Linked DNA regions of Homo sapiens. Each later gene encodes a partner of the first gene's protein in a complex. Each region holds a gene or a part of one and is shown in the gene's direction. Other genes may lie near its edges.

Region 1 (7,601 bases):
AGTTCTCAAAATGCAGCCTGGGGACCCTTTGGGGGGTTTGCAAGGTCAGAACTCTTCATAAAAATATTGACACTCTCTCATGAGTGTACAGTGGAATTTCCCAGAGGATATATGTAGTATGATATTGGAATAGATTAAATTCAGAAGCAGATATTAGAATCCAACTTTTGTCTACTAAGCTAAACGTTAAAGAGATTTGCAAAAATGTAAAACAATGGTATTCTTTCAGTTTTTAAAAATCTGGGGCAATGGTTATTTTTCACTAAAATGTTATTTATGTTAACATAGATAGGCTTATTGGCTTATTATTTTTAAATGGATTAATTTCTAATTTTTTTTTTTTTTGAGACGGAGTCTTGCCCTGTAGCCCAGGCTGGCGTGCAGTGGCACCATCTCAGTTCATTGCAACCTCTGCCTCCCAAGTCCTGCTTCAAGCAATTCTCCTGCTTCAGCCTCCCGAGTAGCTGGGATTACAGGCACCTGCCACCAGGCCCAGCTAATTTTTGTATTTTTAGTAGAGACGGGGTTTCACCATGTTGGCCAGGCTGGTCTCGAACTCCTGACCTTGTGATCAACCTGCCTCAGCCTCCCAAAGTGCTGAGATTACAGCCGTGAGCCGCCGTGCCCAGCTTTAATTTCTAATATAATAAATTTGATAGATATGACTCACTTAAAAGCTATTTGGCATCCTCAATGACTTTTTTAGAGTGTAACGGAGTCCTGAGACCAAAAAGTTTGAGAACTGCTTGATTTGAAAAAACAAGCCTAAAGTCTACCTTTTGCTCCCTGAGGGAAGGCAAGTTGCCCAACTTTTCCAAGACTTTTTCTGGCCCCATAGCATGGGATGATGACTTAAAACTACCTGCTAGGGTTATTGTGAAGACTAAATGGGAAGACGTCTGTGTAAAACTCTTAATTCAGTGCATGGCGTATGACTGTTCAGTAAATATTAACCATCTATTATTATTATTGCTTCTGCTATTACTGTTACCACTACTATGAGGGCTATTACTCCCTGCTGGTGATGTCTTTACTCAGATACATGAAGAACTTATTCTTTGAACTTGCTAAATGCTCTCAGGCCATTGCACTTGTTTCCTTTGCCTGGAATATCTTTCCCTCCTTTTTGTCCAGCAAATCCTCTTCATTTCTTCTTGTATTAACTTCGAGCTTCTTTGATTTAGAAGCCTTCATTGACCTCTCAAAACTATGCTAGGTACCCTGCTGTAAGCCCCAATCTTTGCCCCTTTAAGAGCATACCATAGTGTAATTGCTCGTGTCTTTGCTGGCTCTTCCATTGCACTCCGAAAACTCTGTGAGAGAGGGGACCATGCTTGTTCACTGCTATAATCATAAAGCTCTGCACAGTGCCTGGCAGTCAGTAAATGCCTGTTGAATACATTTTGTAAAAGTCTTCAATATGTCTTCTTGCCACACCGCTCCTTTCATGTCCCAGGGTGCCTAAATAAGCTCGATATCCTGCATATTCCTGTAAATCTCTTTGATCCTCAAGTTAGATGTAAACACTAAACTCAAACAATGATCTGGGCTTCATTTATGATTTTAAGGCAATGGTTAAATGACTTAAAGGATGTTTGATTATATACCTTAATTTCCCAGGGATTCAGAGTTGTACAGGAGGTAAAGCCTTGGTCTTTGCATAAAAGTTGGGTAATTCTTAGCTATGATCCAGGCATAGACTATTCACAAGTTAAGATGGAAAACTAAGACGGCTAGAGAAAATGCCCCTGGGTGCCAGCTTGTGCCATAACTCTTACCACTATAAGAGGAGGGGAGGATAAAGACTGCTTTCTTCCTTTTAAGTTGCCATTCCTTCTGCCATTCGTAGAATTTATGTCTGCACTTTTCTCATCCACTGATAGCTAGTGGCAGTTTCAGAATATCTATTTGAAGAGGGGCTTAGAAGAAACAGTCCCATTGAATAGGGGGATAGGAAAGTTTTTCCTTAAGCTATATTTATATTTTTCAACTTAGATTGCATGTTTATTTTGGAGAATGTTCTTGGATATAAGAGGGTGCTAAGGACTTCCAAGCCACCTCACTGCTAAGAGTACATCTATTTTTAGTGTGGAAACATTTGAAGTAAAGGAATAGGCAGGTTTGATAAGAGAAGTTTGACTAGGTCTCTTTTGTTATTGCTTTTCACACGGGTAAACCTAAACTCTGCCTGGTGAGCATTAACCAATTCAAAAAAGATTTGAAAGTTCAAAAAAGCAGTCGGTGTTGAGAATACATACTAGACCATATTTATTAGGTCTGGGGCCTAAAAAGATCAGTATAATCAATAGGAAACAGGCAGCTTGACAAAAGAAAAACCAAACTTGAGGCAATCAGTTTATCATACAATCATTATATATTTATTTCAGCTATGGACAATACATATGCAGATACCACACAATATAAGATGTGACCTCAAAGGGCTTGCAACCTATTTGGGAAGACAAGAAAATGTCTACTAGATTATCATTTAAGCATGTTTCTGAAACTAATCTTTAGTGTTCATTGTTCCTGCTGGTTATTCTCTTGGCCTAATTATGTGAGGAAAACAGAATGAAGGCAAAGGGATGGGAAGCAAGGGCAATGTGGCTAAAAATATTGATGCTCTTAAGCCATGTGTTCCAAATTTAAAGCAATACATTCATGGTTTTAAAGCTGGAACCTGCAACTAACTTCTAATTAGTCCCTCTTATTTTACAGAGGAGGAAACTGTGGCCTATCCTGCAAAGCACTCTAGCTGATAACTGGTAGCTCTAAGACCAGAAGTCAGGTTCTCTGACTCTCAGTCTAGGGTCCTTTCCAAAACAAACAAGTGCCTCTGAAGGTAAGGTAAAATGACTGGAGTCTTCCTATGCCTGGGGTCTATGCTAAAGAGCCTTAGTTTTTCCTTGAATGGATAGGATGGAATTATTTGAATTATTTTATTAGACCTGCATTATACATTTTTTTAGCATGGCAATTTTCATCAATTCTAATTTCTCAGTTACCAAAATAAAATTTATTAATGCTAAAATCTCCAGTCCTTATCAAAGGGCAAATTAATCAGACTAATAAATTGTTTTTTAACCTCTACTCATTCATCCCTCAACTTTCATATCTTTAACCTATTGAATGACTTACAAATTTTCTATTTCACTCTTGACCTCTTTCCTGAATTTCAGTTTCATATTTCAGTTGCTGCATCTCTACCTGTTTTTACTCCTATGACCTCAAACTCAACATGAAGCCAGCTTCCCTTTCACGTATTCCTATTTTTGTCAATGACACCATCATTCTTCCAGTCATCCAGGTCTGAGATCTTGGCATCATCTCTCTTCTTCTTCTCTTCTAAATCTTGTGGGTTACCAATTTCTGTGGCCTCTTGCTGAAACGTTTAATATTTCTCTCAATTCCATTTCTTCTTTTTTTTTTTTTTTTTTTTTTTTTTTTTTTTTTGAGACAGAGTCTCACTTTCATCCAGGCTGGAGTGCAGTGGCGCGACTGTGGTTCACTTTAGCCTCGACTTCCCCAGCTCAAGCGATTCTCCCACCTCAGCCTCCCGAGTAGCTGGGACTATAGATGTATGCCACCACATCAGGCTAATTTTCTGATTTTTTTGGAGATGAGGTCTCACTGTGTTACCCAGCCAGGTCTCAAGCAATCCTCTCAGCTTGGCCTCCCAAAGTGCTGGGATTACAGGTACCATGCCCAGCCCATTTCTTCTTTTTAATTCCATTTCCTACATCCTAACTCAGGTCCTCATGATCCCACAACCGGGTGGTGACAATATCTACTACTCATCCTGGTTCCATCCTAGCAACCCAACCTACAACTACTGTGGACTACTCTCTCAAAATTACCATTTAAACAGAATCACAAACCCCCATTTCACCCCTTTGATTCTAATTTTTCACAGCTCCCAGTGTCCATGGATAATAAAATTCAAATTCAAAATCCTGAATAATGTTGCCCATGCCCTTGCAACCTCCTCTCACTTTTCCTTCACAGAACCATCCTCCCCAATCAGAAATTTCTTTTCTTCCCAACGCCCACCTCCACCTTTGGCTTAGGCCTGTAACGGACTCTGGCTCCTCTTCTGAATTCTGCTCTGTTAAAATTAGCAACTAGAGCAGCAGACCACGGCCCCTCCTCAAAATTCCAGAGGTACCTACTGATCTTTCTAGAGAGGCAGCCTTCAGACCTATGTTCCCAGAAATCTCTACGTTTGTGCCTTTCCCAACTAGAGAATTAACTCTTGCGGGGCACAAAACAGCCTCTATTTCTTTGCGTCCCCAGCGCCTGTTTGTTGAAGACTGAGTTGAAGGAGTAGCAGGTGGTGTTAATTTGTCAAAAAGATGAGTTAAGGTGCTGGGGGCGAGGGGGAACACCCCCACGGCCCTCCCCCCACAGCAAGGCAGGTGTGTCTGGGGGCCTCGGCGGGTGCCGGGGCGCGGGGCGGATGGTGCCCCCCGGGCGCAGGCCAGGGAGGCCCGAGCGCCTTCCCCACGCCCCGCTCGCCCGCGCGTGTGAGGGGAGGGCGGCCCAGCCGTTTCGCGCCGGGAGGTAGGTGGTGCTGTTGCCGTGACTGTCTTCCTCATTGGCGCCGTGCAGAGAGGCGGAATGTTCAACTCCTAACTGCAGCGGAAACGTGGGAGCCGCGCGGGCCGCTGTCGTCCCAACCCCCGCCGCCCTCGTCGCGCGCGGGGCCTCCGCGCCCCCGGCTGCTGCTCACGCCCCGCCCGGGAGCCAGGTAGGGGTCAGGCTGGAGCCCGCGGAGGGCGGGGAGGGAGGGGGCGAGGCCCGCCGCGCTCGCGAGTCGTCCCTGCGTCTCGGGGCCGAGGCTCCGCCGGAGCCCGGGAGTCTAGGCGGCCTCGGGAGGCTCCTCGGGGCTCCCCTCCCCGACCCAGGGCCCGCCCGGCGGCGGCGGCCGGAGCGAGCGGGCGGGCGAGCGAGCGAGCGTTCGCGGCGCCCGGGAAGTCCTCGCGGGACCTTGGCCGCGGCGCCGCCAAGTGCGGTTCGGGAGAGTTCGGGCCGGTCCCATGGAGAAGTTGGCGCCTGGAGGCGCGGGCGCAGGCCGGAGCGGCCCCGGCTTTCGCGGTCCCGGGCGTGCGGCACGGGCAGGGGCTCCGCGAGCAGCAGAGCCGGCCAAGCAGCGGGTGACTGGGGCACTGTCGGGAGGCGAACCGCGAGGCCCCCAAATCAGGGTAGGGTGCAGGCCACTTCCCAGCACTCGCTGTGCGTGCGAGGAGGGACGACGAACTTCTGCTTTTCTAAGAACTCGACCGCGAGCGGTGTTGCTTCCCATCCATTTTCCTTCATTCTGTTTTCCTCACACAATTAGGCCATGCGAATAACCAGCAGGAACAATGAACACTAAAGATTAGTTTTAAAAACATGCGTAAATGTATCCAGAGCCACCGCTCCCCGCCCTTCCTGCCCCGGGCTTGGGCAGCATGAAGCGCCCGCCCTCTCGGGCTTCCCCCTTTCCTCCCACCGGAGCCGGGGATGTCTCCTTTGGCGACCCTCAGGCAGCGGCTTTTTGTGGGCTCCCAGACCTGCACCAGGCCCAGAAGTGCTTACCCAGGCCGTCGCCTCGTCTGGCCTCGCTTGCCCATGACAGCTTTCAGAAAACTTTAATTCAGGACTGGCTAGATGACATCCGATTGCCTAAAAAATTTTTTTAAAAAGTTATCTCTGTTAGATCGCTGAAAATGTTATGTTTCTGATGCGCTTTGAGATCGCGCATAAGTACTGTTTATGGGGAACTTAATTACTATTTTTGTTAGTTTCTGTAATAATGAAAGCAACACAATTTAGGGGCCCATTCCAAGTATGGTACAGTAAGCAGCTCTCGATACTGGTGTGTGAGAATCGTCTTACAGAGTGAATTTGAGGATGTTTGACTTAAGATTGTTGAAAACTGTACTCCTTCTTTAACCCCGAAGCTGTTTTGGAAGAGCCTTCTTGCTTCCTCGACCTTCGTTGAAATGAACAGCTAGGATTTAGTGGATCCAAACCTCCAAACACGTTTAAAGACAAAAATAAACAAGTGATTCAAGGCTAGTTAATGTCCTCTTTGTAGTAGGCCTATCTCCACAGTGAAATTTCACTTGTTTTTCAATTTTCCAAAAAAAAAAAAAAAAAAAAGTGATGGCTGCATTTTAATTATGGTTATGGTCATTTGTAGAGTCTTTGTTTTAAATTCCTGCTACTATAGTGAGAGATTTAGGAGATTGTAAATGAATACGAATTTAGTTTGGGAAAACAGAATTAAGATAAAGAAAAATGGTCTTTTGGACCACTGCACTGTTTATTTTAATCTATCACAATTTAATTCCTACTATAACTTTTTGAGATTATTTGGGGAGTTTTTTAACTACAAAATATTGTTTAAATAAAAAAATTTAGTGATAATAATTCCAGAGTAAATGACCATGATGCAATTGCAAGGACTTTCTCCGTTGTCTAAAAAAGCAAATAGATGATTGATCCGTTTTTCTTAATCTTTTAGGGAATATATAAGGACACAGTAAAGAGAGAAAAAAAAATCCAAATATTAAACACTCGGACTTGGATCTAAAAATGGATGGTCAAAGATCTTGGGAACTAAGGGGCCTTCTTGCCAAATAAGGAAACTTGGCAAGTTGCACTGTGTATTTTAACTTAGCACAAGAGTGAGTGTTATTGGCAATATATTGGCTCAGAGCCTATCTGGAATGAGCAGTGAAACTGACTTTGATAGGGCTACAAAATTATAAATAGGTTTGTGGGGGCGTGGAGTGAATAATCGAATCATCAGAGAAAACACTGAAAACTTTTCATGAAAATAAGTCAGATGTAAGGTGAAGCTATTAGTGTGGAGTGACAGAGCAAAATGGACAGTTTATTTTAGAAAGTGGTAGATTCAGAAGAGAGGAGAGAATCAGTGGTTTTTTTGTTTTTGTTTTGTTTTTGTTTTTGTTTAAACTGGAAAAAGATGTTTGTGGGGATATAATACTTCTTGGAATAAGATAGCCCTATGTCTGTATCCTGAGATGTTGGAAATAAAAATGAATTTAGATCACTTGTTTTCCATTTTATTCTACCCAGGACAGATTGACAGGGTGAGTATCTTGTCTATCTAAATGTAGTAGGAACAGTTAAGGCACCTTTTGGTCTTACTGCAAGGAAGATTTAGGCTAGTTTTTTGGTAGCTATTAACTTTGCCCCACTAGACACAAATAAGCAGAGTTCCAGCTGTGACCAGAAAATTGTACCTGGTAAGGGAAGAGGACTATGAATGCTAGAGCTTAGATTGATTCGACTGATACATGGGTGCTTTTATGTCAGACCCTCCTACGGATGCTGAAGCATCGTCCTAATAGCTGTTAAGTAATCCCAGCACAGTAGAAGAATCTGTGAGAACAAAGCAGCCCCACATTTGACACCCTAACCCCAGTGTCTTCAATTGTAATAGGAAATTAAAGCCTCAAATTGAACTTTAGGTGGATGGTGAGCAATCCAGTAATTACTGTAATAAGAAAATAGTTTAAATAGGGTAAACAAAAGGCAAATTAGAAGGAGGAGGCAGAATGTTATTAACAAAAAGACATGATATGGTAGAA
Region 2 (7,024 bases), on another chromosome or scaffold:
ATATTGGCACAGCTGGAGCCTCTGACGTGCACGTCACAAGTAAGCCTGTGGATAAAATCAGTGTTCCAAACTGTGCCCCTGCTGCCAGTTCCCTGGATGGTAACAAACCTGCTGAGTCTTCACTTGCATTTAGTAATGAAGAAACCTCCACTGAAAAAACAGCAGAAACGGAAACTTCACGAAGTCGTGAGGAGAGTGCTGATGCTCCAGTAGATCAGAATTCTGTGGTGATTCCAGCTGCTGCAAAAGACAAGATTTCAGATGGATTAGAACCTTATACTCTCTTAGCAGCAGGCATAGGTGAGGCAATGTCACCCTCAGATTTAGCCCTTCTTGGGCTGGAAGAAGATGTAATGCCACACCAGAACTCAGAAACAAATTCATCTCATGCTCAAAGCCAAAAGGGCAAATCCTCACCCATTTGTTCTACAACTGGAGACGATAAACTTTGTGCAGACTCTGCATGTCAACAGAACACAGTGACTTCTAGTGGCGATTTGGTTGCAAAACTGTGTGATAACATAGTTAGCGAGTCCGAAAGCACCACAGCAAGGCAACCCAGCTCACAAGATCCACCCGATGCCTCCCACTGTGAAGACCCACAGGCTCATACAGTCACCTCTGACCCTGTAAGGGATACCCAGGAACGTGCGGATTTTTGTCCTTTCAAAGTGGTGGATAACAAAGGCCAACGAAAAGATGTGAAACTAGATAAACCTTTAACAAATATGCTTGAGGTGGTTTCACATCCACATCCAGTTGTCCCTAAAATGGAGAAAGAACTGGTGCCAGACCAGGCAGTAATATCAGACAGTACTTTCTCTCTGGCAAACAGTCCAGGCAGTGAATCAGTAACCAAGGATGACGCACTTTCTTTTGTCCCCTCCCAGAAAGAAAAGGGAACAGCAACTCCTGAACTACATACAGCTACAGATTATAGAGATGGCCCAGATGGAAATTCGAATGAGCCTGATACGCGGCCACTAGAAGACAGGGCAGTAGGCCTGTCCACATCCTCCACTGCTGCAGAGCTTCAGCACGGGATGGGGAATACCAGTCTCACAGGACTTGGTGGAGAGCATGAGGGTCCCGCCCCTCCAGCAATCCCAGAAGCTCTGAATATCAAGGGGAACACTGACTCTTCCCTGCAAAGTGTGGGTAAGGCCACTTTGGCTTTAGATTCAGTTTTGACTGAAGAAGGAAAACTTCTGGTGGTTTCAGAAAGCTCTGCAGCTCAGGAACAAGATAAGGATAAAGCGGTGACCTGTTCCTCTATTAAGGAAAATGCTCTCTCTTCAGGAACTTTGCAGGAAGAGCAGAGAACACCACCTCCTGGACAAGATACTCAACAATTTCATGAAAAATCAATCTCAGCTGACTGTGCCAAGGACAAAGCACTTCAGCTAAGTAATTCACCGGGTGCATCCTCTGCCTTTCTTAAGGCAGAAACTGAACATAACAAGGAAGTGGCCCCACAAGTCTCACTGCTGACTCAAGGTGGGGCTGCCCAGAGCCTGGTGCCACCAGGAGCAAGTCTGGCCACAGAGTCAAGGCAGGAAGCCTTGGGGGCAGAGCACAACAGCTCCGCTCTGTTGCCATGTCTGTTGCCAGATGGGTCTGATGGGTCCGATGCTCTTAACTGCAGTCAGCCTTCTCCTCTGGATGTTGGAGTGAAGAACACTCAATCCCAGGGAAAAACTAGTGCCTGTGAGGTGAGTGGAGATGTGACGGTGGATGTTACAGGGGTTAATGCTCTACAAGGTATGGCTGAGCCCAGAAGAGAGAATATATCACACAACACCCAAGACATCCTGATTCCAAACGTCTTGTTGAGCCAAGAGAAGAATGCCGTTCTAGGTTTGCCAGTGGCTCTACAGGACAAAGCTGTGACTGACCCACAGGGAGTTGGAACCCCAGAGATGATACCTCTTGATTGGGAGAAAGGGAAGCTGGAGGGAGCAGACCACAGCTGTACCATGGGTGACGCTGAGGAAGCCCAAATAGACGATGAAGCACATCCTGTCCTACTGCAGCCTGTTGCCAAGGAGCTCCCCACAGACATGGAGCTCTCAGCCCATGATGATGGGGCCCCAGCTGGTGTGAGGGAAGTCATGCGAGCCCCGCCTTCAGGCAGGGAAAGGAGCACTCCCTCTCTACCTTGCATGGTCTCTGCCCAGGACGCACCTCTGCCTAAGGGGGCAGACTTGATAGAGGAGGCTGCCAGCCGTATAGTGGATGCTGTCATCGAACAAGTCAAGGCCGCTGGAGCACTGCTTACTGAGGGGGAGGCCTGTCACATGTCACTGTCCAGCCCTGAGTTGGGTCCTCTCACTAAAGGACTAGAGAGTGCTTTTACAGAAAAAGTGAGTACTTTCCCACCTGGGGAGAGCCTACCAATGGGCAGTACTCCTGAGGAAGCCACGGGGAGCCTTGCAGGATGTTTTGCTGGAAGGGAGGAGCCAGAGAAGATCATTTTACCTGTCCAGGGGCCTGAGCCAGCAGCAGGTAAGCAAAACATAATACAAAATTAACAGTCTGAGAAGCAGATTCCCTTAAGAGTCACTGTGGTGTCCTGGTAAAAATATAGGCATCTTTGTTGTTTTGAGGCCTTGCACTCATTGGGTAGGTAGCCAAGTTAATAGTCACCACCATCAGGAGGGGCACGTCATCTCAGGGTTGGACAGATTTTGCTTCCTGTATTGTAGACTTACTGCTTGGTTGCTTAAGCTTATAAACACTCCTGTCTCATTCTGGAGTGGTTGCAACTTTGCAAACCTAGAAAACAATGCCTAGATCACAGGTACTCTAAAGTGGTGAAAGAATTTAGCAGATGTTTTTATTCACATGGCTTAATCCTTTTCTCTAGTACCATAGAAAACAGTGCCAAAAAGCTGTGTTTTATCTACAAGCCTGAAACTCCCTTCCTCCCCTATCATCCTAGTCTGTATTCTGAGCAAATTTAGAGTCAGAGTGGTTTCATGAACAGCTGTAAGTATTGTTCTGAGCTGACTTCCCAACATCCAAAATGGTGGTATTAGGTCATTGGTGGTTTTTTGTTTGTTTGTTTTTGTTTTTTTTGGGCTAGGGGTGTTGTTGACGGGGAACTCCTTCCTTTTCCTGCTTGGGGAGTGGACCTCTAGTTCCATTGCCTGTTGCTTTTGGGCAGCAGTCTGAGAATTCAAGACCCTGCACAGTGCAGGGGATAGGATGCAGGATTTCCGCCCAAGCCCAGTCTGCTGAGCTGCTGTCACAGGGCAGACCTTGTGTCTGCTTTATCTTGGTGAAGCAGCTGCACTGAGCAGATTGCTCACACAGCAGCCTGTTCCATCTGTGGGTAACCATGTTCCGAGGCAGCAAAGAGAAACCGCTATTGCTCCGTGGAAATAAACTATCTGAATAAAACTTCTTAACGGGGGTTGAGGCTGAAGCTGAAACGGGAGTCGGACACGATCTTGGCTCCTGAAGTCTTTAAAGGTCAGTTTGATGCACACTTCTATACCACCACCTGTTACCAGCTGTAGACAGAAGACCTATCTCCATGCTTGCCCCTAGGCTTTTGTAGGTAAGAAGCAGCCTGTTTTGTCTTTATTGTTTATTTTTGCTGTTCTTTTCAATTTTTGAAAATCCCTTTACACATATGTATTAAGAATGTGGGGGAGGGTTATGGAGAGAAATGAATCAATGGAGCAAAAGAAGTTGCTTTGGAAGAAGCGCAATTTAAATACAGTGGTTATTTTCCCTGGTAAAGGGCTTTTAGCCGTTTATAATCTTTTTCCTCCCCAGTTGAGGGATTTAAGGAATCCGAGGTAGAATTTTTGATGACTTTAGCTTTTTAGTTTTATTAATGTTTTGGATTGTTAGTGATAGATACTTGCTGGCTGTTGTCTCAGGATTTAAATGAGGTCTCTAATTTTTAAAAAAAGCCACAACAACAAGTCTATTTTGGGGGCCCTGGCAGGTTGGCATTTCAGAAGAATGGGAGTGGCTGTAAGCTGATGCCTGGTGATGTTCTTTTCATTTCGGTGCTGCGTCCTTGGCCACATGGGCCGGAATTATTTCTCTTTCTGGCTCAGTGGTCAGAATTTGACTCAAGCAAGTGTGAACTCTGTGGGGATTGTGTCTGTAGTATCCTATGAGAAAAAGTAAAAACCAGGGAGAATTTCAGACTTTGATTTTTATTAGCACATATAGTAAAGATGGTGAGAAATGACGGATGTTTAGGATTTTGAGGTTTTGAGAAGGAAGAAAAATGTATGGACTTTCAGCAGTATATATGGGCTTGAGGTTGGTAAATTTTGTGTAGGTGAGTTACTTGTCCTGTTACCAAAAGGAGTCATACTCATGGTCTCAAACTGCAGAGGAACTCTGTATTGATGGTCTCAGACTACAGAGAAAGTAGCCAGTCATGAAGAAATTGGTACTTTCTTCAGAAAATGGCCAGGATTGGGAAAATCCCTGGTCACATTACTTTAGAGAAAAAGCACCTGAGTGTGATCTCAGAGCCAAAGGGTATTTTCTATCAAGTTTACATTCTACTCATAGATTTAATCATACTGTTTTGTGAGTGAGAAGACATAGGTTTAACTGCTGATTTGGAAGGAGCCAGTTTGAAAGAAGGGGATGTGGCCCTTGACCCACCAAAAGCATTGACCACAGTGCTTAGGAAATCAGTGATGCATGACTGAGCCACGCCAGTCCTGCAGAGGCTGCCGACACCCGTCAAGTGTGAGTAATCACTGTTTTCTAGTGTGACTGGTTGCTGTGCCAAGATGCATCTTTTCAAAGTTGATAGGTATAGGAAAGGAAGGAGGTACCAAAAATCACATCCCCAGAGGAAAGCAACCCTCTTTCCCCCCAGAAATTACTCTGACTCACTTAGAGATGTTTTGATCAAGGGATAGTTCTAAGGGGATTGCTTAGTCAGATTTTAACTTTAATAACATTTTATGAAATTTAACACAGATTTTGGTTCTTTGGGCAAGGAAACTTGTTTACCCATTTTTAAACTGCTGGTAAGATTATATAATTATAAGGTCAAAGAAGGAAGAAAAGAGGTTCATCTATAGAAATGTAACTCTTACAAATTTAAGGTAGACTTTTGTACATGTCATGTGCTCCTAGAATAAAATCTTAATATAATTTATTCTTTGGTGAAAGAAACTTCTGTGCTCTTTAGTGTGGGGAGCATTTTTCTTGCCAGAGTAGTGGCATCACTAGGTTAATAACCACAGATGCATTTCCACATGAAATCGAGATGACAGTTCCATTTGCATTTGGATTATTAAGGTGAATTTTGACTGTTCAATCATGAGTCCCGTTTAAAGAAGTGTCAGAAGCCTAAATTTGCCTCAGACATCATTTATCATTTCCTTCCTGTATTTGCTTGACCATGTGGTGGTCAGGTAACAAAAACCACCACTGTTTTTGGTCTGTCAACATGGCCAGCAAGAGGACAACTATGTAATTCTTGAGAAAACATGCGCAGAAACGTTTCTCTTAAGAAAGGGATAGCTAGTCTGTGATTAGGTTTCAGTTTTGGAAGAAATAAGGGTTAAAAATAAGACGTAACTGCTGAGTAGTTCATTCTTACTGGTTACAGTGATGGGTGGATCAGAGTGTGTTGTATGTTAGTGAAAGTCATACTTGTCCCAGAGGCTTTTTCTCATTCTCAGTGGCTTTTTCCTTTTTGTTTTGTACAAATCCTTGCTTTTTTGATGATGGCCAAGATGGACTACCTAGCTTCAGCTATTAATCTGTTCCCCTGAAGCTTATGAATTTAGTTTTCCATATGCAAGTTGGTGCTACACTCAGATTTGTCATAAAAAGTCAATAGTGAAATGGATGTTCAAAAGACATTGAATTGGATCCTCGCTTAGTTCCAAGCGCCTACAAAGGCTAGGGAAAACCAGTAACCATGCGATAAAGGAATAGCTCAGCATAGGGTCAGAAATGACACTAGCCGCTGACAACAAAAGAATACTTTTCCATTTTAACGCAAAAGCAAAACAAAACACATGAAACCTGGAGCATGTTGTATGAATAGTAAGGCACAGGAATCAGTTTTTAAAAATGTACTCTGTAACCCCCCTGCACTTTCAGAAATGCCAGACGTGAAAGCTGAAGATGAAGTGGATTTTAGAGCAAGTTCAATTTCTGAAGAAGTGGCTGTAGGGAGCATAGCTGCTACACTGAAGATGAAGCAAGGCCCAATGACCCAGGCGGTAAGTGGCATCAGTAAGTCTATAAGGGCACAAAATGTGTTTATCCTGTTCTGCTGTGTCTTATTTATGGCTTTGTCTTTTATTTGAGGGTAAGTGGGCAAAATAGTATTTTCCCCCTTCCCTCTTGTGCTGTTATATAAATGTGTTTATGTTGCTGCAGCTAAGCTTTCATAAATGGTATATACCATACAGCAAAGTTTTGGAATGGGCTGTTACATGTTTTCTTATAGATTATGCTGAAAAACATTTTCCCCTTGAGCACAAGGCTTTAAGATTTGTCAGTAAGCTTAAATTGTCACAAAATCTGAGCTATCACAAAAGGGGATCTATAGACCTTTTCTTTCTTTTTTTCTTTCCTTCTTTTTCTTTTTCTTTTTTTTTTTTGAGATGGAGTTTTGCTCTTGTCACCCAGGCTGGAGTGCAGTGGTGTGATTTCAGCTCACTGCAACCTCTGCTTCCTGGGTGAAAGCGATTCTCCTGCCTTCGCCTCCTGCCTAATTTCAGCTGTGAGTAGCTGAAATTACAGGCATGCGCCACCATGACTGACTAATTTTTGTACTTTTTGTGGAGATGGGGTTTTGCCATGTTGGCCAGGCTGTTTTCGAACTGGCCTCAAGTGATCCACCTGCCTCAGCCTCCCAAAGTGCTGGGATTACAGATGTGAGTCATGGCACTCGGCCTATAAACCCTTCTTAAACCTGACTCTTCTTTCTTTATATAAAAACTGATAGCCAAAATGAGATTTTTACTTTATAGCTCAATAGTAACTGTCTAAATTATGAAGTATATCGTTTTCAGCAATG
Region 3 (7,024 bases), on another chromosome or scaffold:
TTAACTTCCCAAGCTGGTGAGCTTCCTGAGCTGGTTAGTGAGAACAGCACTAAGGCCAGGTTCTCCTCCCCAGATGTTTAAGATGAGACAGGACAATGCCTGCTCAGAGACAGGGCCTGGCTGAATTGGCCCTCAGGATTCTCTCTGCTCTGAGGTTTCTGGAAGAAGGCCAGGGCAGAGGTGTGGTGATGTAGCTGCTGGGAGGACAGAGCTCCGAGTCACGTGGCTTGGGCGGGCCTCCCCTTCCTGGTGTCCACAGAAGCCCAACGTCACTAGCTGGGGTGTGTATGGCTCACACGTAGGCCAGGCTGCCCTAGGCTTGGTGTGCAAGGGAGGGGCCCCTACTTACTTGTGGCCTGTCCCCTCGTGAATGTGTCTCATGTCCCCAGTGGGGTTTTTCAGTGAGGGTCATGGTCTCCAGGATGCACAAGGCTTTGTGCCAGAATTGCTTGGAATTGCCTAGTTCTGGAAGGCTGGTTGGCCAACTCTGGCCTCCGGCTTTTCCTTTGGGAATTTCCCTTGAAGGTGGGGTTGGTAGACAGATCCAGGCTCACCAGTCCTGTGCCACTGGGCTTTTGGCGTTCTGCACAAGGCCTACCCGCAGATGCCATGCCTGCTCCCCCAGCCTAATGGGCTTTGATGGGGGAAGAGGGTGGTTCAGCCTCTCACGATGAGGAGGAAAGAGCAAGTGTCCTCCTCGGACATTCTCCGGGTAAGAGGAGCAGGCATTGTCCCGTCCCAGCTTGATCCTCAGCCTTCTTTCATCCTTGGCCGCGACATGCTCCCAGGCCTGGGGTCAGATGGGGAGTGCTGACTCTGTTTCTGGGCTGTTTTCTGGGGAGAATGGGTCGGCGGGTTTTTTTCCCCAGGACCTGGGCAGGGTCAATGGTGGGGGCCGCTGTCGCATCCTTGGCTGGTGTTTCCACAGCTGAGAACCACTCCAGGGCCAAGCCCAGAGCTTATTCTACCCTTTTTTGTCCTCTCTTCCCCTGTCCTCGGCCACCCCACCCTCTTGGCTCCTCTGCTTAGATGTGGGCACAAGGAGGAGAACTCCTTGGCCTGAGAGAACTACCTTAGATCCTGGCTTCCAGTGGCCTCTGCAGGGGGGTACACCCTCTCTCCCAAGCAGCCAGACACACAAGTAACCTCATTGCCTCAGTTTCCCCATCTGACCAGCACAGGGCCCCCTGTGCCCCAGCAGCGTTCTGAGAGATTGGAGCTTTCTCCTTTTGCTTACCTTGGCTACCGTATGAGGACGGATACAGAGTGTTCCCCCCACCCCCAGCCCAGGGGATATTTGATTCATGAACATTCCCTCAGTGTCTTTGTGGGGGACAATGCTGTGCCAGGCTCAGGGATGCCAGGACGAGTAAGACCCAGGCTCCCACGTGGCCCAGGCAGGGAGAGAGACACATAAACAACCATCAGGAAAGAGGTAAAATCCCCAGGCCACTTGGCATCTGCTCCCTTGAGTGTCTGGGAATGTCCCTGATTTATAAAAAGAAGCTGACGGCCCTCTTTGTTGTCCATGCCTACACCCTTTCACTTTCGTTTCTTCGGGGCACTGCAGCAGCCCTTGTCCACAGACCCCATGACAATCGCAGAACTGACCATGCTGAGAGATTTTCTTGGCTGCTCAGGGACCCTGCCAGGGCTTGAAGCTCCTGGAGGGTCACTTGCCCTCAAATTCCCAGAACGCACAGCAGGTCACTGATGATAGCAGTGGCAGCAGTCTGTGCACGGTGGTTTCGAGGGCGTGGGAGGGAGGTGAGGGCCCTAGGGCAAGTGTGTGTGGGAAGTGTTGATGGGGGACAAGGCACCAGAACGCTCGGAAACAACTTAGTTTGCACCGTAATTTTTCACTTCGCCTAGGACAGGACCTTTAGAGCAATATTCTGAGTCTACCCCTTGGAGTAGCAGTGTGCAAAACACACAGCACGGGCTTGGGGCCCCCGTGGGGAACCCAAATGTAAGAGTTAGAGACATGCATTCCGGAGTCATACATGGCTCGTGTTGAAATCCTGACTCTGCCTGTCTAGCTGTGACACATCGTACAAATCACTTAGCTTCTTGGTGCCTCAGTGTCTTCCTCTGTAGAATGGGTAGATCATAGGCACTACTTCAGAGTGGCTGGGAGGGTTCAGTGAATTCCTGCAGGAGAGCACTTAGAATGGCACTTGGTGTGTAGTTTATGCTTAATTAATATTAGCCGTTACTGAAACTGCTGTAGCCTGAATCCAGCCAGCATGAAAGAGCCCCTCTCACCCTGCTTCGAAGAGAATGAATTCCCTGATTGTTTGGAAGATCTCTCTCTCTCTCTCTGTCTTTTTTTTTTTTTTTTGAGAAACGGTCTTGCTCTCTTGCCCAGGCTGGAGCGCAATGGTGCCATCTTGGCTCACTGCAACCTCTGCCTCCCGGGTTCAAGTGATTCTCCTGTCTCAGCCTCCTGAGTAGCTGGGATTACAGGCGCTCGCCACCACGCCTGGCTAATTTTTGTATTTTTAGTAGAGACAGCGTTTCACCGTGTTGGCCGGGCTGGTCTAGCGCTCCTGATCTCAAGTGACCTTGGGAGATCTCTTGCTCCTAATATTACCTCAAGCCTTTTTAAACGTTTTAAGCCGGAGACCAAGCATGGATATGGGAGTTAGGGGTCTTGATTTAATTCTTGGTTGCTTCAAACTCTGTGGAACCTTGAGGTGTTTCTTGCCTTCTCTGGGTCTCAATTTTCACATCTATATGGTGGGGAGCTTGGATTGGGTAATGTCTGAGGCTAGAACCATGGCCAACTCGGGTTCTGCTGGGGCTGACTTGCCCTGGCCTTCCCTGACCACCCTGCATCTGGCTTCTGGAGAAGTCCCGCACTGACCTTGTTCTCCTCCCCAGGTTGTGAAATGTGCTCGCAGGAGGCTTTTCAGGCACAGAGGAGCCAGCTGGTCGAGCTGCTGGTCTCAGGGTCCCTGGAAGGCTTCGAGAGTGTCCTGGACTGGCTGCTGTCCTGGGAGGTCCTCTCCTGGGAGGACTACGAGGGCTTCCACCTCCTGGGCCAGCCTCTCTCCCACTTGGCCAGGCGCCTTCTGGACACCGTCTGGAATAAGGGTACTTGGGCCTGTCAGAAGCTCATCGCGGCTGCCCAAGAAGCCCAGGCCGACAGCCAGTCCCCCAAGCTGCATGGCTGCTGGGACCCCCACTCGCTCCACCCAGCCCGAGACCTGCAGAGTCACCGGCCAGCCATTGTCAGGAGGCTCCACAGCCATGTGGAGAACATGCTGGACCTGGCATGGGAGCGGGGTTTCGTCAGCCAGTATGAATGTGATGAAATCAGGTTGCCGATCTTCACACCGTCCCAGAGGGTGAGGCACTCCTGGTGTGCATCACAGAGTTCTCAGGAAAGGGGTGCTTAGTCACCAAGACTGATTTGTCCTCATGAAGTCAGCCTGTGGGGTAACTTGGTCCATGGGATTTCCCCTAAAAAGGTAGCCAGGCAGGTAAAATTTGCTCTTGACTCTTGGCAGGAAACGTACAACTCTTTCTTTCTTCTTTTCTTTTCTTTTTCTCACTCTGTTACCCTGGCTAGAATGCAGTGGCACAATCATAGCTCACTGTAGCCTTGAATTCCTGCGCTCAAGTGATCTTCTGGCCTTAGAGTAGCTGGGACTACGGCTGCTGTACCACCATGAACAGCTAATTTTTTTTTTTTCTTTTAGAGATGGGGTGTTGCTATGTTGCCCAGGCTGGTCTCCAGCTCCTGGCTTTAAGCAATCCTCCCGCCTTGGCCTCCCAAACTGTTGGGATTGCAGGCATGAGCCACTTTGCCTGGCCAACAGAACACTTCTGCCGAGAGGAAGTGTGTGGTGGCCAGGAACTCAGATTCTGGAGCCAGAATGGTGCAGGCTCAAGGTCAACCCTGTGTGATCTCAGGCTTCCCTATGGAGCCTCTCCAGCCTCAGTCTCCCTTGTTTCAGTTTCCTCATCTACAAAACAATGTTAATAGTCAAATGGTGCCTATCCTATAAGGCTCTTGGGAGGATTCAGTGAGTTAATTTGAGTAATGCTTAGGATAGTGTCTATTACCACTGGCTGCTATTTATTATTTCTGTTATGAGTGATACTCTGTACTTGTACACTTTTATTTCTGTCTGTTTTAAATTAACAGCACAACAGACCATAACACTGCAGTATATTGAATTTATTTTATAATTAACATAGCATATTATAAACTAATATAGCTTAAATGTTTATGTAGGATTTCTGACATGAAATTGCATTAGATCATAGATGTTCAGAGTTGGTATATAACAGCCCCTGAGAATGTAGTAACTCAGCAGAGACCAGAAGGTCAGAGAAATGACCACTGAGTATTTTTGAAACTCTTTTGTTTTCTTCCAAATAGTGATTCTTAGGGCTCCTGAGAGGCAGATGGAACAATCATTAACATTCCACTTTATAAATCGGGAAGTTGAGACCAAGGAAAGTAGTTTGAATAAGCTCACAGTAGTTAATGAGGGGGCCAGTGCTGGACCAATTGGCCAGCACTGGTCATTGACTTATTCATCCATCATTCATTTATTCAGCCAGAATCTATTAGGTGCTTCATACATATTTGCTTAAAGTTTGTTGTGTTCATAGAGCTTTGCACACGGTAGGTACTCCATAAACATTTGTTGATGAAATAAGTGAGTTACTGAATGAATGATTGAATTAGAATGACACTGCAGTGTTAAAATGGGCTGGGTTGGGGAACATTTTAGTTTTTGTTTTTGTCTGTTTTCCAAAAATGTATGTGTTGTTCACATGAGTCTGGATAACCCTAGATTGAGATTGATGACATAAATAAATTTGTCTTCAAGGCTGCACTAAAGCTGGCTCACATGGCTAGGTATTTACAGAGCAGAAGTGGTGCAGTCCTCTCTGATTAGTTGCACGTACAGAAGACATATTCGTTATTGGACTGACCTTAGTTTCTCTTATAATTTGTTAGGGGAATTGAATCAGCCCATCTGAGAAGTTACAAGATTGTGTCTTGTCATCTTTAAAAGTTCAGCAATGTGATGTGGTACAGATGGTCTGAGGGGTTTGGAGAAGGTAGCCTAGATCCCTAGGGCCCAGAGAAGACAGGATGTGAACAGAGGAAGTACATGGATTGGTGAAGAAAAGAAATGGGATAACTCATGGGTCAAAGAAGAAATCATGATGGAAATCAGAAAATATTCAGAACCATACAATAATGAGAATATTATTTATCAAAATCTATTGGATGCAGCTAAAGCAGGACATAGGGGGAAATTTACAACCTTAGGTGCCTAGATTAGGAAAGAAGGAAGGCATTTGTTTATTTATTTGTTTATTTATTTATTTGAGATGGGGGTCTCACTGTGTCACCCAGGCTGCTGGAGTGCAGTAGCACGATCATAAATCACTGAAGTCTCGAACTTCTGGGCTGAAGTGATCCTCCCGCCTCAGCCTTCCAAGTAGGTGGGACACAGGCTAGCACCACCATACCAGGCTAATTTTTTTTTTGTAGACACAGGGTCTTGCTATGTTGAGGTCTCAAACTCCTGGGCTCAAGTAATCCTCCTCCCTCGGCTTCCCAAAGTGCTGGGATTACAGGCATGAGCCACTGCGCCCATCTAAGGCTGAATTTTAATGAGCTAAGAATTCATCTTAAGAAAGGGCTAAATAGACAGCAAAAGCAAACATTGAAGGTTGGGACTGAGCTGAGTGGGTAGCAGGGATGGGAGACAACAGATCTGAGGAGAGCAGGAGATTTTGAAAGGATTGCACTGCCTGAGGTTTAAGCCTTTAGAATCCAGCTCTCTCTGAGCTCCCTTTGAGCTCTGACATTCTGTGACTCTGATTTGGTGGCCTTCCCTTAGTGGCCTTACTGATTTCATTTGGATGGTGCTTGTGGTATATCCAACCAACATGTCTTCCCAAATGGCCTTTTAATTTCCTATAAAGAAGTAGTTGTCATTGATTGCAGGTTAGGGACAGAAAATGCTGTGGAATGAAACAAAATGCAAGTTAAAGAACTAAATTCCAAAAATACCCATTGCTACTATTGACTGAGTGAATTCCTACTGTGTGCCAGACACTGTACCCAGTCCATTCCCTGTATTGTTTTATTTAAGCCTCACAAGGGTATAGTGTGACTACACTGTTTCTTAACAATGAAGAAACTGCCCAAATCGCCCATCTGGGAAGCGGCCCAGCTAGAATTTGAATCCAGGCCTGTTTTCCTCCAGAGCTTGTGCTATTCTCTGTCTGTCATAAAATGTGGGGGCTTTGTGTGGTAAACTTGCTCAGTTGGGCATAGCAGTTGTTAGGAAACCTGAGGCTGGTAACACCAGCTGTAATACCAGCTGTCCGTCTGACTCATGCAACTGTTAAAGTTGATAGGGCTGAGGTGTCAGACTGAGCTCTGAATTGCCTGATTCCTATAACAATATTAACTTAAACATTTTTTAAATTGGGAAATGCACCATGCATACAGAAGAGTGTGTATATTTCATATGTATAGTGTAAACTGTTCCCATCACCCAGGTTAAAAAACAGGATGTTGCCAGTACCTGGGGCCTTCTTTAACTGCAACTGCTAGAGGTAAACACTGGCTTGACTTTTGTGTAAATCATCTCTTTGCCTTTCTTTAATGTTTTAGCATCTTTTAAAATAAATCCCCAAATAATGTATTGTTCTATTTTGAAAAACTGAGTAGCAAGCCAAAAATAGCTGTGTAAAGAAAGGTCACTTAAATTAGGCTGGGTGCAGTGGCTCAAGCCTTTAATCCCAGTACTTTGGGAGGCTGAGGCAGGTGGATCACAAGGTCAGGAGATCGAGACCATCCTGGCCAACATGGAGAAACCCCGTCTCTACTAAAAATACAAAAAATTAGCCAAGAATAGTGGCATGTGCCTGTAGTCCCAGCTACTCGGGAGGCTGAGGCAGGAGAATCGCTTGAACCCGGGAGGCAGATGTTGCAGTGAGCCGAGATCGCACTGCTTGAACCCGGGAGGCAGAGGTTGCAGTG
Region 4 (6,833 bases), on another chromosome or scaffold:
CTGGTCTCAAACTGCTGGGCTCAAACGATCCACCTGCCTCGGCCTCCCAAACTGCTGGGACTATAAGTGTGAGCCACCATGCCTGGCCTGACATAATTTGACTTAGGCATTTTGCTTGTCTGGCTCACACACCAGGTCATACCTCCCCAGGGAGTTGTGTCCATCTTGTTCAATGTTGTGTTCTCAGTGCCAGTCACACAGTAAGTGCTCAATGAATATCTGTTGAATGAATGAAGGAGCTGCCCACATCCTGGGTTTGGGTCAGCCTCTCTCTTTTTTTTCCCCCATCATCAGTATTTATTGAGCATTTACAGTGTACTAGGCACAATAGAACATACAGAAAACATTTCCCTGCCCTTGAGGAGCTTACATTTTAAAAGAAAAAATACACCTCTTTTAAAATGGCATTTTTGTTTGGTGTTTTCTGCAAAGTACCGAGGAAATATTTTGTAAAGTGATGCTTTGGGTATAACTTAGCCCCATCATTATTTAAAGAATAGAGGAAGAAGAAAGAGGAAGGATTTTAAAGGCAGACAATGACAGACCATTCAGGATAGGTAGGGTTTTAAAGGGAGATAAACACAATCTCATCGACTAAGGAGAGATTTGCTGTAGTAAATAGGATGAGGGAAATAGTCTGTGGGATGCAAGCAAAGGAAGCAGGGTGCCTTAGACATTGATTGGAGCCAGAAAGATCATGCGGCCTTTTTCCAAGTACATGGCCACCAAGTAGGAATGGTTGGTGACAAGACAGAAGGCTAAAAAAGGAAGGTAATCTTGTGCACCTGACAAATAGAAAGAATAAAGGATCAAAATCGAAGGCAGGCTACAATAGTATCAAGAAATTCTTAAAAACCAAAAAGTGATTTGGAAGCACAAAACTTATAGTTAATGCTATTGAGTCAGCCTCTCTTTACAGCCTTCTGTCACCCCAGGTCCTGCCCACCTCAGATCATGCTTGCATCCTGACTTTGGCCACAATCCTTCCCATCCAGAGACTCAGTTTCCTGCATCCACAGAGAGCAGGTTTGGGACTTTTCTCCTAGGAATCAAGGTAAGAGGCAGCCTCTTGTGACCCATGTCAAACATTTATTCTGCTTTCTGCATGGTCATGGAGTTCCCCAATCTGACTGTGCCACTTACAGACAGAAAGAAATCAAGAGATGTCACTATAGCAAGCCAGCAAGAGACCTTTGTCTCTGATGGTTCTTGATGGTACTTCTTGAGCTCCAGTGGTGCAGCTGTGCATCCCAGTCTGGCCCTCACCTGGTCCTCATGTGTGGCCCTTTTTACATCTCCAACCCATTGCCTCTGCTGTTCCTTTCCAGGGATGCTCTTCTTGCTTCTCTGCCTGGTAAGCTCCTACTGGTCCTTAAAAGTCCAGTCTCAAAATCACCTCCTCTGAGAGGCCTTCCTTGTCCCCACCCAGATGGAGATGGCTGCATCACCCAGGCACCCTCCTGGGACTTTTGCTCATGCATCTATTTATAGCACTCACATGGAGTTTTGTGATTCCTGAGCTGTTTATCGGGCTCCTGACTAATCCCCAAACTCCTTGTATGCGAGGGCCTGTCTGAGTCATCTGGCCGCCAAGGAGGTTGGCACGGGACTGGAGTCGCTTCACCCTGGTCTGTGGATGCTTTCCTCCTTCCTTTTTTCATTCCTCAAATATTTATCAGGCACCTACTATGTGCCTGGTTCTGGGCTATGCATTGGGAACACAGCAGGGAATGAGGCTCGGATGGTCTGGAGGGAGAGCTGTGTTAAAAACTGAGTCAGTAACAAAGACATCAGCAGCATAAGTGTTGTGCCTCAGTCTGGGGACCATGATGAGAAGGCCTCTTAGGGGTGTTCATTTAGGAAGCGGTCTGAGGGATGAGAGGGAACCAGCCCCAGGAGGCTTGAGTGGAAGAATGTTCTGGGCAGGAGCAGCAAGGGTGAAGCTGCTGCGGCAGGACCATCCCTGGCACATTTGAGGGGCAATACTGAGACTCTTGAACATCCCAAGAAGCAGAGTGCACAAGGCGGAGTGTGGCCTTGTGCAGAAGTCAAGGCTGTTGGCCAGTGCCTGAACCCAGAAAACTCGCTGGACTAGCCTTGCAGTTCTGGTAGAAAGGAAGCTGCTCCTGGATGCCCATTTTACAGACGGATAAGCACAGGTCACCAGGGATGATATGGCAAGGATGGAGGCAGCCCACAGTGTTTTCAAACTCACATTTCCTGGGCACCTAGTGAGTGCCAAGCCCTAGGCCAGGTGTTTCCACTCCTGAACTCATGAAACGCTTTCAGAGACCTTATTGTCCCCATGGGATAGGTAAACTGAGGCACAGAGCTGCTCAGTGACTTCTTTAAGGTCATCCAGCTAGTAAGTGGAGGAATTGGTATTGGAACCCATACCTATCTGAGCCCCAGACTCATGATTTTCCATCCCACTGCCTGGGAAGGGTGAACAGGAGACGCAGGAAGAGAATGGTGATGGCTGCAAGGCTTCCCTCTTATCTCCTGTGGCTCCCCACTCTGTGCATGGGGCCCTGCATCACCCCCACTTTACACCTGGGCAAGCAGAGGTCAGGCCCGGCCTCAAGCCTTTCTAGCAGGTGGTGGAATCTGCTTCCCTCACGTGAGGTCCCTGACAGGGTACACATGTCTGCCTGGAGGCCAGGGGCTGACCCCTTGACCTTTGCCTGGTACATTCTGCCTTCACTAGCCCTGGCTTTACATCCAGAGTCATCTGTTCCCAGCGCCAGATTGGTCAGCGGTTCCTGAAATCCCCCGAGGTTCCGTGTGGGAGCAGAGGGAGGACTGGCCCATCCAGCCATTATGCAGATGGGCAGACTGAGATCCTAGGAGGAGAGGAGAGAACGAAGGTCCAGGAGAGAGCCAGGATGGGGCCTCGGGGCTCGCGGGATAAAATGCACCGCATGCCGCCTCACTCCCTCTGAGACACGGTTTCCCCCTGTGTAGAACAGGGGCAGCAGTAACCAGCCACGAAAACTCCTCGTGCTGCCTCGTCACCGGGCATCGCTGAGCTCACCACCGACCCCGCGCCCTGGCCGGGCGCCTGGAGCGCGGGCGCGGGCGACGTTTGCTGGCGCCAGGCCCTCAGTGCGTGTTAGCGAGCAGCGCCGGGAGATAGCTGTCACCGCCGCCCGCTCACAGATGCGTAGACTGAGGCTCAGGTGTCACCACCTGACCAAGGCTAGTTCCGCTACAAAGCTGCCGACTCGGATCCGAACCCGGGTCCAATTTACAGAAAAGGAAACTGAGGCCCAGAGACACTAGGGAGCTTGCTAGGGTGAGGCAGCTGCAGGTTCAGAGAGCCAGGAGGCAGCCCAGCAGCGCACTTTTAACCCCCGCCCACTTCGGCAGGCCCAGCCGTGCCACCTTTAGGGATCTCGGGTTTTTTCCAGACGACGCACCCAGGAGAACGCGCCCGCGCATCGCACCCGCCGGGGCTGCGGGTCTGGGGGTGCCGGGCTGGGCCTGGGCGCCTGCAGGGAGCAGCGGGCTCAGTGGGTCCCGGGAGTGGGTGGGGCTTGCATGTTGACGGGCAGCGCGAGGGGCGCGGCTTTAGTCCAGGGGGCGGAGCCTGACCGGACCTGGGTTTTTCGGGCGGCTGGCGGACTTGACAGAGAGCGGGAGGGGCCCGGATCCTGGGCCTAAGGAGGGTGGGGCGTGTGCTTGACAGGCAGGGACAGGCCGGCGTCTGATAGGCAGAGGACGGGCCTTGGAAACGAAAGGACCAATCGGGCACGCAGGGGCGGGGCCTGAGTCAGCGCAGTTCGGCCGGGGTCTCCCCGGCGCTGCCCAGTCTGTCTCCGGCGCCGCCCGTCGCGGACTCGTCCTTGCTGCAGTCGCCGCCGCAGTCCTCGCCGCAGTCGCCGCCGCCGCCGCCGCCGCCGCCGCTGCTCCTCCGCCTGGCCTGGGCCGTCTGCCCGCAGCCATGAGCGTGCTCGGCCCCGGTGGAGCCCGCAGTCCTCTAGATTAGTCTCCACCGCCGTCCAGGACCCACTTGCAGCATGGAGTCGCCCGCCTCGAGCCAGCCCGCCAGCATGCCCCAGTCCAAAGGTAGGCGCTCCCGGCCGGGACCTCGGCCTGACCCCGCGCCTAATCTGGGGCCGGGCTGCAAACCCCGACCTTTCTTTGGTCCCACCCCATCCTGTTCTCGACCTGGCAGCGGCGTCCGGTCCCGGAACCCCTTCCTGTTCGGGGTCCCGGGACCAGCCCCCGCCTGGGCCCTCACCTGGACCCCCACGTTAGGCCTTGGGACTGCACTCAGGCCCGAGATCACCCAGGCTGGACCCAGACTAGGACTTTGTTCTGCTCACCCCATCCAAGTCAGGAGCCTCATTCTGACCTCATTTGGGCCTTATGGCTGCAGCCTGGACATGAACTCTCCCAGTCTTCTCCCTCAGCGGGACCCAGGTGAGATTCACACTGGCCTTCACCTGGGTCCTTGGGCAGCACCCAGTCCCATTTCTAGCTTCGGGTCCCAGGGCTGTATCCAGGTTGGGATTTAACTTGAGTCTCCATCTGGGCCCCAGAGTGCTCCTGTTGTTGCGGACCTCACTGTACCCCCTATGCGGGTGCTCTGGCTACACCCCAGCTCGGAACTCCCCGTCCTTCTCTCCCCCAGCTCTTCTTATCCTTATAGGCCCTATGTTGCCCCTTCCCTGGCTGGCCTGCACCCTGTCCTGCAGCCCTGGGCTCCCAGGAACCTTCCTTGTCCTCCCACCCCTCCCTAAGGTACAGCCCCCTCTCTACCGGCCTCTCTCTGTCTTGAGTTGCAAGCTTCTCCCTGCACTGGGGGTTCTCACCCCATCTTATTCTTGTCCTGGCTGCCTGGGATCTGGGCCAGCCGCCAGGCCAGGGTGCTGGCTGTGCAAGGGATTTGCTCTTCTCCAAGTAGCTGGCCTTCCTGGAAATTTTTGTGAGGTGGCAGCAGCAGGATTTGTCATGCGGAGGGGGAAGGATGAAACTCGGAGGGCAAAAGGGGAATTTTTTTTTTTTCAGGAAGAGGAAAGGATGTTTTTGGTGCGTCGGAGTTTCAGTAGGCTGGGTTGTGCGAGAGATTTCCAAACCGGACATAGCCGTAATGAATGGGCTGCCTCCTGGCTTTCTGAACCTGCAGCTGCTTCACCCCAGCAAGCTCCCTGGTGTCTCTGGGCCTCAGTTTCCTTTTCTGTAAATTGGAAGTAATCGCACCTGCTTCTGTGGACGTGGGAGTGTGGTGTGGGGTGGTGAATAGTAAAGAGCTCTGAGGCGTTCTCTCAGCGTAGCACCTGGCGCAGAGCCGGTGCTCACCAGGGTACACTGGCTGCACACATCTCGCTATTGTTTCCATTCTTCTTGCTGGAAAGGCCTCCACTGCTGGAAGTGCAGCCTCAGAGTGAGCAGGAGGAAGCACCTAGCAGCGGGCACCTAGTGGGCACTTCATCAGGGGTCAGCCGCTCTTCTGTTCTGGAGGGTGCAGGCCAATGGGAGCCCTATGTGGGCCTGGGGAGGGCATGGGCTCTTCCTGGCCCCTGCTGCTGGCTGCTATGGTGGCTGGAGCCGGGTGGGCTGGATAATTATGCCTTACATAAGTGGGAGGCCGGATCCCTGACCATTGCCCAACCACTGTGAGTAACTCGGGAGGCACTCGACGGGGGAGGTGTCTGGGGAGGGACTTGCACTGCACAGACCTCGTGGAGCTTGGGAACCAGGAAATCAGACACTTCTCCACTCTGGAGAGCTCGGGGAAGGGTAGGAAGCACTGTTTGTTTTGGAGGCTTTTTAGCTCTCCAGGCAGAGAATGCCTCATCAAAATAAAAGTTCCAGTTGCAGAGTTGTGAAAGGAGAGGGGTCATAGATGCAGTGAGAATGCTGTGAGAGGGCCAAAATGAACTTCTAGATGTGGACCCAGGTCCTAGATGAGGTTGAGGGGGCTGGATGGAGGGTCAGGGACCTCCCTCAGGCCCAGGGACTCTGTAGTCTCTTTGGGGTCTGGGGAAGGATGTGGTGGCAGAGCCACAATGCCCTTCACCAAAAACCCTATGAGCTCCTTCTTTTTTTCCATGTGCCATGCATTTTCTCATTTATTCCTCATAGCCCCATTTACTGATAAGGAAACTGAGGCGTTAAGTGCCTTGCCTGAGGCCACACAGCTGTGACAGGCGGAGCTAGGGTTCCCCCTAGGACTGTGTTTCCACAGTGGCCTTCCCCGTGCTCCCCTATGTGCCCCTCCCATGCTGGATGCCTGAGCTGAGCTGGTGGGGTGCCCCCACCCCTGGCCTTGCTCAGAGCATGTGCAGTGGGCCTGTCCTCATGGCCACGTCAGACCTAGAGGACAGACTGAGGCAGAGGTGATGCCTCTCCTGTGCACAGCGCTTTACACTGGGCCTGTTGCATTCTCGCTGCAAAATCCCACTCATTTGACAGATGCAGAACTCAGCTTGGATGGAGGAGTGGCCGGACTGCCCCCATAGGTGGAGAGCCTCACTCTGTGCCCACCCCATCCTGGGCACTGGGCCTCCCAGCACTGATCCCTTCTCCACCTTCTCAAAGGAATTTGAACAAAGCAGGGAGTGGCTGGCGCTTGACCTTACTGGAGCTTTACCTTTGAGCTTCCTGCCTGGCAGCAGGTGCCCTGCACTGTTTCCATGCCATGGGCCTGGGGAGTTTTCTATGAGTGTGTGAGGCCCTCAGGCCCACAGCTCTGCTGGTTTTCCCCTGGCCTCCTTGCCCACATGGCCATCTCTGGCTGGGGTTAGAGGCCAAGTGGCTGGCGCTGGGGCCAGTGGGTGGGGGCATGTGTGCAAGCCACATTTGTCCTTGGAGGGTACCACACGTGT

What was found.
Region 2: MAP3K20 (region 1) and AKAP13 share a complex: the UniProt entries of both Homo sapiens proteins name them as parts of the signaling complex.
Region 3: MAP3K20 (region 1) and NOD2 share a complex: the UniProt entries of both Homo sapiens proteins name them as parts of the signaling complex.
Region 4: MAP3K20 (region 1) and MAP2K3 share a complex: the UniProt entries of both Homo sapiens proteins name them as parts of the signaling complex.

The regions. Positions count from the first base shown.
Region 1 is NC_000002.12:173,071,256-173,078,856, forward strand, and holds the start of MAP3K20 (mitogen-activated protein kinase kinase kinase 20), read left to right. Parts: upstream 1-4,590; 5' UTR 4,591-4,747; intron 4,748-4,815; exon of another isoform or gene 4,816-5,201; intron 5,202-7,601. UniProt on the Homo sapiens protein: Stress-activated component of a protein kinase signal transduction cascade that promotes programmed cell death in response to various stress, such as ribosomal stress, osmotic shock and ionizing radiation.
Region 2 is NC_000015.10:85,579,603-85,586,626, forward strand, and holds part of AKAP13 (A-kinase anchor protein 13), read left to right. Parts: coding exon 1-2,505; intron 2,506-6,099; coding exon 6,100-6,221; intron 6,222-7,024. UniProt on the Homo sapiens protein: Scaffold protein that plays an important role in assembling signaling complexes downstream of several types of G protein-coupled receptors.
Region 3 is NC_000016.10:50,696,605-50,703,628, forward strand, and holds part of NOD2 (nucleotide-binding oligomerization domain-containing protein 2), read left to right. Parts: intron 1-343; exon of another isoform or gene 344-639; coding exon of another isoform or gene 640-712; intron 713-2,775; exon of another isoform or gene 2,776-2,883; coding exon of another isoform or gene 2,884-2,891; coding exon 2,892-3,350; intron 3,351-3,365; exon of another isoform or gene 3,366-3,473; intron 3,474-7,024. UniProt on the Homo sapiens protein: Pattern recognition receptor (PRR) that detects bacterial peptidoglycan fragments and other danger signals and plays an important role in gastrointestinal immunity.
Region 4 is NC_000017.11:21,280,902-21,287,734, forward strand, and holds the start of MAP2K3 (dual specificity mitogen-activated protein kinase kinase 3), read left to right. Parts: upstream 1-3,809; 5' UTR 3,810-4,019; coding exon 4,020-4,068; coding exon of another isoform or gene 4,069-4,425; intron 4,426-6,833. UniProt on the Homo sapiens protein: Dual specificity kinase. Is activated by cytokines and environmental stress in vivo. Catalyzes the concomitant phosphorylation of a threonine and a tyrosine residue in the MAP kinase p38.